2 separate regions of the Homo sapiens genome follow, and region 1 is linked to region 2. Evidence: fine-mapped expression QTL. A gene starts in region 2. The other region holds a variant in brackets. All regions are shown on one strand. Distances are from middle to middle. Region 1 overlaps CFAP95 (cilia and flagella associated protein 95). Region 2 holds the start of CFAP95 (cilia and flagella associated protein 95).

What was found. PIP is the estimated chance that this variant, and not a neighbour inherited with it, causes the effect.
Region 1: its variant is the best candidate, but not a certain one, in a credible set for the expression of CFAP95 in testis (GTEx, PIP 0.50).

Annotation. Positions count from the first base shown.
Region 1 is chr9:69,842,850-69,847,243 of GRCh38, forward strand. It overlaps CFAP95 (cilia and flagella associated protein 95), which reads left to right. Exons shown (of 6, transcript NM_001010940.3): 2 at 1,668-1,776. Among named protein-coding and RNA genes, the nearest start is that of CFAP95, 24 kb to the left of the region's middle. The variant G/T (reference allele first, on the strand shown) is at 1,802.
Region 2 is chr9:69,818,178-69,822,571 of GRCh38, forward strand. It overlaps CFAP95 (cilia and flagella associated protein 95), which reads left to right and starts at 2,640. Exons shown (of 6, transcript NM_001010940.3): 1 at 2,640-2,854. The coding sequence starts at 2,703. CFAP95-DT (CFAP95 divergent transcript) reads right to left here and starts at 2,562. Exons shown (of 2, transcript NR_038833.1): 1 at 2,473-2,562; 2 at 1,228-2,090. RefSeq lists a silencer at 2,556-2,615.

The DNA of each region.
Region 1 (4,394 bases), 25 kb after region 2:
TTTTGCTTGCCGCCCCACCTTGGGCTCCCTTGCTGCTGGGTTCTACTGCAGAGCTCTGCTGTCATGCTCAGAGGTGGGGAGGCAGGAGTGTTAATGGGAATGTAGTGCAGGGGCTGAGCCCTAGTCCAGTGGGGGTGGGGAAGGAAAGAGGATGCCCTTTGGATTCGGTGCCCAACCTAGGTTAAGGGAAGCAATTCTTCTTACCTAGATTTTTACCCACACTTACCATGTTGTAGATTTTTCTTATTTTTGTGTCTCTCTATCTAGACTGCAAGCAACTGAAGGCAGGGACTCCATTAGACTCACTTCCCACTGCATCCCCCACACCTACCAAAGTCCCTGGCATGTAGTAGGAATTTTAAAACATTTGTGGAATAAACAAATGGCTGGATGATTGAATTCTCGGGTACTTGAGTGTCCCCTAAACAATTCTAGCCCTGTATCCCTTAAAGCAAAGTAACTTCTGAGGGTTGCTTAGTCTTAGCATCCTATATTTCACTCAAGAAAGTTCTATTAAAAATAGCTACTTCAGTTGCCAGCCACTTCTCCTACTTTTTCCTTCTCTACCCCCAAATCCTCTTCTTCCTTCTTCCCCCTCCCCTCCCCCTCCCCTCCCCTCCTACTTCTCCTCCTCCTCCTCTTCCTCCTCCTCCCCCCCTCCTCCTCCTCCTCCTCCTCCTCCTCCTCCTCCTCCTCCTCCTCCTCCTCCTTCTTCTTCTTCTTCTTCTTCTTCTTCTTCTTCTTCTTCTTCTTCTTCTTCTTCTTCTTCTTCTTCTTCTTCCTCCTCCTCCTCCTTCTTTCTTCTTCTTTTTTGAGACAGGGTCTTATTCTGTTGCCCAGGCTGGAGTTCAGTGGCACAATCATGGCTGACTGCAGCCTTGACCTCCCTGAGGTGATCCTCCTAGCCCAGCCTCCCGTGTAGCTGGGACTACAGGCACATGCCACCAAGCCCAACTGATTTTTGTATTTTTTGTAGAGATGGGGTCTTGCCATGTTTCCCAGGCTGGTCTTGAAGCTTCTAGGCTCAAGGGATCTGCCTGCCTCCCAAAGTGCTGAGATTACAGGCGTGTGTTACTGTTCCCTGCCTCTTATTATTCTTAATCACTCTTTTAATCAAGATGTTTGGTATATTTTTTCCTTCTTCCATCTACATTTTTAAGAACTGTTTTCTTCTACCTCATGTTTATCAGCTTCCTTTATTGCCTCTTTAGAAGCAGAAGCACAGGTTATAAATCAATATGGGCAAATACTTTGCTGTCTTGTTTTGAAAAAAATTGTAATTAAAATTCATGGTAGAAAGAATTTCTAAAGTGGAAAGTTGCCTTTCCAAGATATTACCATGTCTTATTTTAGAACTTACTGTTGGTAAACTAATCTACATTATTAAATAGGATTCAGTTCATTGGAATCACTGAGTAATTACTGTGTTTGATAAGTATTGTTTGGGTGATATTATTAGTTTTATCACTTATGCTAGGTTGCTTTTAGGAATTAGCCTCAGCATTACTTGAAAAGAGATGGAAAATACTTTATATGTCACAAATCTAATAAATTTATACTTAATACTACAAATATAGAAAATTTTCATTGGATAATTTTTAAAAATCTGAATGCAATACAGAATAAATAAACTACATCTCTTAACGGACTCCTAATTTTTTCTTAAGGCACCGTGACAGAGAAGCTTTTCCCAAAGGTTATGATATAGAGGGTCCTGAGAAAGTTAAAAAACTGTGTAATTCAACATATCGGCGACTGGGAACCGATGAATCCCCAGTAAGTAGTTGCTATTACTTCGTTT[G/T]AAGTCTGAAATCTTTGTCATAGTGAAACATAAAAAGGTAAAGGGAGGAGTGTTTTGTGCAGCACCATCCCTCGTTAACTGTGTTAGTTACTTAGATGACTTAGTCACTGTGTGCTGAAGCAACATTACCTGTAAAATGTGCCTACCTCACAAAGTGATTGGGCGAATTACATGAGATGAAGCAAGTTGAGTATGTGGCATGGTGCCTGGCACATAAAAGTGCCTAGGAAATTGTTCCTGTTGCTATGATGCTGTTGTCACTACAGCAGCAATATCCTGCTAGATGTCTCCTTTCACCTCCACAATAACCCTGCAAAGTAGGTATTAACCATCACTAATTACAGAGGAGGGGAAAGAGGCTCTTAAAGACTAAGCAACTTACTCAAAGTCACACAGCTAGGGCGTGGAAGAGGGAGAGTTTATACCCTGGTCTTTGGTTTCAAGTGTTTTGTGCTTATCTTAAGCTGGTGGAGTTGTGAGTAATTAAAACATGCTATTAACAGTGTCATAATGTTTGTACAATCCAGTTACAAGAAAAATATTTATGGCATAAGTAATTCCTGTTTTAATTGAGGTGAGTGCGTTACTGCTTGGCTACCTAGGTGTCTGTCCAGTCAGCATAAGGCAAGAGCTCAACAACTAGGAGACCCCCAAATTGGGTCCTACAATGTCACGAGCTTTGTGGCTAGCTGAAGACAATTTAGCCTTAGAGGATGGCCTCGGGGCATGAAGAGCTGGTGATTTGATGAGGGTGGTCGTACAGGTGATGAAAAGATTGGGTTTGTGTCACATTCTGCCCCCGCCCCCCAAGGCTGGGCTAGTTTTAGACCAGCATTTGAAATGGGGCAGGTGTAAAAAGACGCATAATTCCACATTGGAAATTGTTCTAGAAGATTCTCCATTCTGCAAGGTAATGAGGACAAATTAGCTTAGCATGGCAGTGCCATTTCCTCCTTTCCTCTTATAGTTGCAGTGGACAGAGAGTAATAAGGATCGCCTGGAGAATGGGGATTTATCATAAAGTGACAGCTGCCTGGATATAGAATGAGCAAACTTGCAGGAACTAACACAGCTCTAAAGCAAGGCATCCCCATCGCCACCCCAACCTCTCTGTGTCACATGCACACACAGAGTCTCTTTGGCATCTCTATTTCTCTCTGCTCAGGTTTACCTCTTGCTCCATAGCCCAGATCTCAGGGGAATCTGATGATTTCCTCAGTTTCCACCCAACCCTCTTCCCTTTGCACCAGGCTGCCTCATGGGTCATCAGCCAGCATGTGGATGGGGCTCTGCAGTGTGATGCCCAACTCAGTCAACATCCACTTGCTCCATTCCCCCACAAACACAGCTTCACCTTGCTTTCTTCAGCATGGGGCTGTGGTCAGGAGAAGAGTAAGCTGGGCAATTCAGGCATTGCTTGACATGCACTTAGAGACTTTGGTCCTTAAAAAACATTTATTTTTGATTTCTATATTAAAGATGTTTTTAAAGAACTTTTGGTCCTTAAAAACATTCATTTTTGATTCCTATATAGAAATGCTCTTGGTTTCTGGGTATTCCTATACCTCATATCGTGGGGGAAGTGAGATGAAGCGGGATATGAGGTATAGGAACCACAAACATTCCCTCCCCAATATTATATGCGTTACAGTGGTCAAGCCTCAGGTTTAATGAGAATGTGTAAATAAATAGTAGTATTTACTGTCTGTATGTCTTTTTGTTGATGGCCATTGAAACCCTGTCCTCCACCTGCCAGATTTGGAATGTGTATTCAATAGAAAAGAAAATAGACTGAGGAATCACTATTTCTGATGGAACTGCTATTCTCTATCTTAATAGCAATTTACATTTTTCCCTATAGACTTTCTGTGTATAAAGCACTGGCTCATCCATCTTGTTTTTCATTCTTCACAACAAAGCTATAAAGCTGTCAAGAAATATATTATTATTTAGTTCTAAACCTAGACTTACAGATCTTAAATGACTCACCCAAGGTCCCAAGTGTAAAGAAAAGGAGGGGATACTGGCGCCAAGCCCCCACACCTTCACATGCCAGGTGTGAGGCTGGATATAGCAAGAGGATGGGCAAGTCCTTCTTCCTGTTGTCACAGAGATTTGGTAAAGGCCTAAAGACACTCTTGATAGTTGGCAGGAACCACATGCCTTAAAGCAAGAATCTGGGCCACCTAGGCAGGACCTGCTAAGAGACTAAATTAGATTAAACCAGTATGAGTAGTTATGTCCTTAAAGACAAGGGACTGAAGAGTTAAAAGAGTATTCATGTAGTTGTGGGTTCTGTGCCTCTCTTTCTCCAGTTGAGAGAGGTTTCAAGGGAACCACTCAGAGAGATTAATATGTATGTCCTGGAATTTAGAGGACACGGGGTCCAGTCACATGCCTAAAAACCTAAATGTGAGAGGTCATGCCTGATATGGCACAGCAGAAAGAGGGAGTGCGGGGCAGGGACAGTAGTGGTCAAGAAGAGACTTGCCTAAGACTTTTATTAAACAAAAGGAAATAACTTGCTGTGGGAGGGAAGGGGCAGTTTGATTAAAAATGAAATTGCTTTATGATTGCATCCTATTGATGCAAT
Region 2 (4,394 bases):
AAAAATTCAAAAAATTAGCCGGGCGTGGTGGCGGGCGCCTGTAGTCCCAGCTAATCGGGAGGCTGAGGCAGGAGAATGGCGTGAACCTGGGAGGCGGAGCTTGTAGTGAGCTGAGATCGTGCCACTGCACCCCAGCCTGGGTGACAGAGTGAGACTCCATCTCAAAAAAAAAAAAAAACAAAACAAAAAAAAAACAAAAAAACCCTCTGCAATAAGTGCTGTTCTATTCCTATTTTATTGATAAAGAATCAAGAAACCAAAATTCTACAGTATGTATTGGTGTATACAAAGAGAATGGAATGCACATAAACTCGAGGATATCACAGAATTAGTATCCTAAATCCTAGGACAAGGATGTTGAAAAGTATTTAGTAGACACAGAAGACAATGAAGTTTATAAATTTGATACAAACAGGAAAGTGAGTATAACAAAAAGCATATTCACAAACTCTAATAGGTGGTTGGCTTGGCTTAAGGAACTCTAAAATAACCAGCTATGTTTGTTTTGCATGTTTTCTTAACTTATTGCTCCTTGGTGTGCTGAAAAGCTTTTAAATCTCTGTGGTACTTATGCACTGTGGAAAGAGCTTGGCCTTGGGCAGCTTCCATCTTTGAGAGAAATTGTCTGCAGAGATCTGACATATTGGTTTCACATATATTATGTTACCGCCACTCTAAACGTAAGTAAAATGAACACATGAACAGATGACAGCAATGATGATAATATTTTTGGAACAACAGCAATATTCTGTGCTTTGATTGGACAGAATTGAGCTTGACATGGATCATATTTCCCCTTTTAAAGTTAACTTATGTTTTTCTTTTCATTCTGCCTAGAAGAAAGCAGCTAAAATAGCAGTCAGCACTCTCCTAGCATTTGGCTGGTGATGGTGGACTGTTTATTTGGTTTTAAGAAATATATTTTAACTGTGGCTGTCAGTAAAATAGAGACCTTAGCATACCACAGGCACCCACACTATGAACCACAGACCACGGAAAAGCACTTAGTAGTTATATGTAATCAAATTTGTGCCATCTGATACAGAAGAGTGCCTCACTATTTATGGGAGCACTATAACACATCTTTTATAAACCGAGAATCTATTTGTAGTGTGAATGGTCTCTTACTCTGTTTTAAAGTTTGATTTTTTTGTGTAGATGTGGTCTTCCTCAAGTAAGACACTTTTGGAAAGTAAACCTAAGGTAATCAAACATAATGAACATTCATTCATTCATTCAACAATGAAGATATCTGTATTAAGGACTATGCTGGGTAAGTGATTGCAAGGAGGAAGTGCTTTAATGCCCCTCAGGTACTCGACTAAGGCCAGGGAGGAGAGAAGAATTCTGATGTGTTACATATTCTTTTCCTGCAAAGTCAAAAATGAAACAAACGTCTTTTCTTCTGTAACATATCTATCCAATAACTTCTTGAAGGCAATGTTTTCTTCTGTAACACAGCTATCCAATAACTTCAAAAGGCAATCTTTTTAAAATCTCCTTCCCACATATAACACACAGCACAAAAATGTGATGAATTTGTGTTGTCACGAAATATCAAAAATGTCAATGAGGAGAACTTGACAAGTCCCGGGGATCTGAATGCCCGGAGTCCTAAACTGTACCTAGAGTCTTGCAGCGTCATAGCCAGAAGGGACTTGCGATTCTTGTGCCCACTCCACTCTACGGTCCCGTTCCCTCTTTCGTTTTTCAGAGGAAGAAACTAGTGTTCAGAAAGGTAGGGGAAGGATCTGAAACTGGAGCTAGGCTTTTTGATCTTCAAACTTTTTAGGTGATTTGCTGGATGAGTCTGCTCCTCCTCTTTTGCAGGCAGGAAAGCTGTATAGAATGACAAACTTTGGGTTTCAGGGGATGTTCTCTCGTTCTCTTTTAGTTAAACTTATTATAAATAACTCGTAAGCAGAAGGTGTGGTGGCAATGGATGATGGACGGTAAAAAGAACTTCCCCAAAGGCTGGGCGCGGTGGCTCACGCCTGTAATCCCAGCAGTTTGGAAGACCGAGGCGGACGGATCACTTGAGTTCTGGAGTTCGAGACCAGCATGGCCAACATGGTGAAACCCTGTTTCTACTAAAAATACAAAAAATTAGCCGGGTGTGGTGGCGAGACCCTGTAATCCCAGCTACTTGGGAGGCTGAGGCAGGAGAATCGCTTGAACCTGGGAGGCGGAGGTTGCAGTGAGCCAAGATCGTGCCACTGCACTCCAGCCTGCCTGGGCGACAGAGTGAGACTCGGACACACACACACACACACACACACACACACACACACACACAAAAGAACTTCTCTAAAGACAGCCCGAACAGACCCACTCGGGGTTCAGGGAATTTGCTCTTCCCTTGGTCCTTAACTGACCTACCACTCCCCAATAACTGCGCTCAGCCACTCTTAGGATTTGGCGGGTGGACAGGCGAAACTGCGGATCCCAGGATGCAGTTCCCCCCTTCATCACCTGTGTAGCCCGGTCGCTACCCTCACTGCATTCTGGGAAATGTAGTTTCTTATCAGTAACGACAACGTCTAGGAAACGTTTGGCCGTCAGGTTGGAGGGATCCGCCCCTCCACTGGCCCCGCCCCAGGTTGCTTAGGAGATAAGAGACGCCGAATCTTGGTACTTACGTTCCTGCCGGGCAGGACAGGTGCATAGGGAACTCCTCAGAGGTCTGTACCTCGAGGGCTCCCATGGATAGCCTTGACAGATCCTGCCAGGACTGGTGCGACAGGAAGCAACACTGGTTGGAGATCGGACCACCGGACTTGGTGGAGCGCAAGGGCTCCCTGACCCTCCGCTCCCATCACAAGAAATACTCGAAGCCGGTGTTGGTGTATTCCTGGTGAGCGAAGTCCCCTCGCAAGTTCCCGGGTGCTGCGGGGAGGAAAGAGAGGGGAAAGGATGGAACAGGAAAGGAAAGGAGAGTCAGAGAGAGGGGACAGGAGTGGAGACGACAGAGGAAACGGAAAAAAGAATGAGAAAAGTGGGGGAGAAATGTAGAGAAAGAAGGAAATGAGAAGAAAGGTGAGAAAAAGATGAGACGAGAGAGGAATGGGAAGGAGGAAAAGAGAGAAAAGAAAGAAAAGGGAAAGAAATATTTTCAAAGGAGAAATAGAGAGAGTGGGAGAGAGGGTTGGAGCAGAGAGGAGGAAATAGGAGAGCCTTTCAGGGGCAGCTCCCAGCCACACACTGGGCCACGCAGCAGCCAAATCCCCGCCACCTGAGGTTTTAGCTCATTCACACAGAGCGGGTGTGTATAAATAGGGGGTGAAAAGGGGGTGCTGTCAGAGGCCTGGAAATCACATTTCTGACACAGGCACTTACTCATAAAAGGAATTAGAGGCCAGGGGCACAGCAGGAGGGAGATGCCTATTTAGAGGACCAGCCTCCAGGGCTGCCACTTCCTGGGGGTAGGGTGTACATGGAGTGATTTGAACGAGGCCCCTCATATTTTCTAGGCTACATACAAGAACTTTTCTGGCCAGAGACTGCAAACTGGCATCTCCCACTGGTTAAGGCCAACAGACATTGTTTGGCATGAGCTCTGTTTACTTTTTTTTTTTTTCATTTTAATTAGTTGGCCACATTTAAAACTAGGAGATTCACAGTAAATCCAGGGTTGTATCTTTGAAAATTTGAAAGTCTTGGCCAGAGAGGATTTTATTTCTCTGGGGAACTATGAATGTACCAGAGCTGAGCACTGGCTACACCTTAAGATGGGTGTTGTTCTGTCTTTAGGAACTTCCCTCGTGTAAGTTCTTGCTTGGCCCCAAGAAGCATTTGGTTTACTTCTTGTGCTTTAGAACTTGACCTGGAAATTCACTTTCTCTTATTAAATATCACAGTGACCAATAGCAACACTGTGATGTATAACTGGAAGAAAAGTGGAAACTTTTAGGACTTTTCAAATTCTTTCCCTTGAATTAACTTTCCTGGCTCTGCTGTTGATAGTAATTACATTTGGAGTGGTTGGAATATTTGGGAGGGGCGTGAAGAAAAAAAAGAAATGAAAAGAAGTCACAAATCTTGTCTACTTTATGTTTTTGCTTTTGAAAGAAATGAGTGATTTTGACTCTAGCCCTAAGGCTAAGCCCGACTTCATCCCATTCATTCATGTAATATATGCGACCCCTGCAGTTTCTGTCTTGCAAACTTTCTAAAGCCTATTCCCTGCTTTCCAACAAGTTTACCTTTCTGCTTTTACTTCTCAACCCTGAAACTGTCTCTCTTCCTCCTTTGAACTCAGTATGAGAAGTTATACAGATTTGGAATCCAAAACTACACTGGGAAACAGAACATCCTCTTTTAGCCTCATATAGGGCTTACCTCATAGCTCTCAAGCAAAACACTTAGCTCTTCTGTGACTCTGTTACCCCACAGAG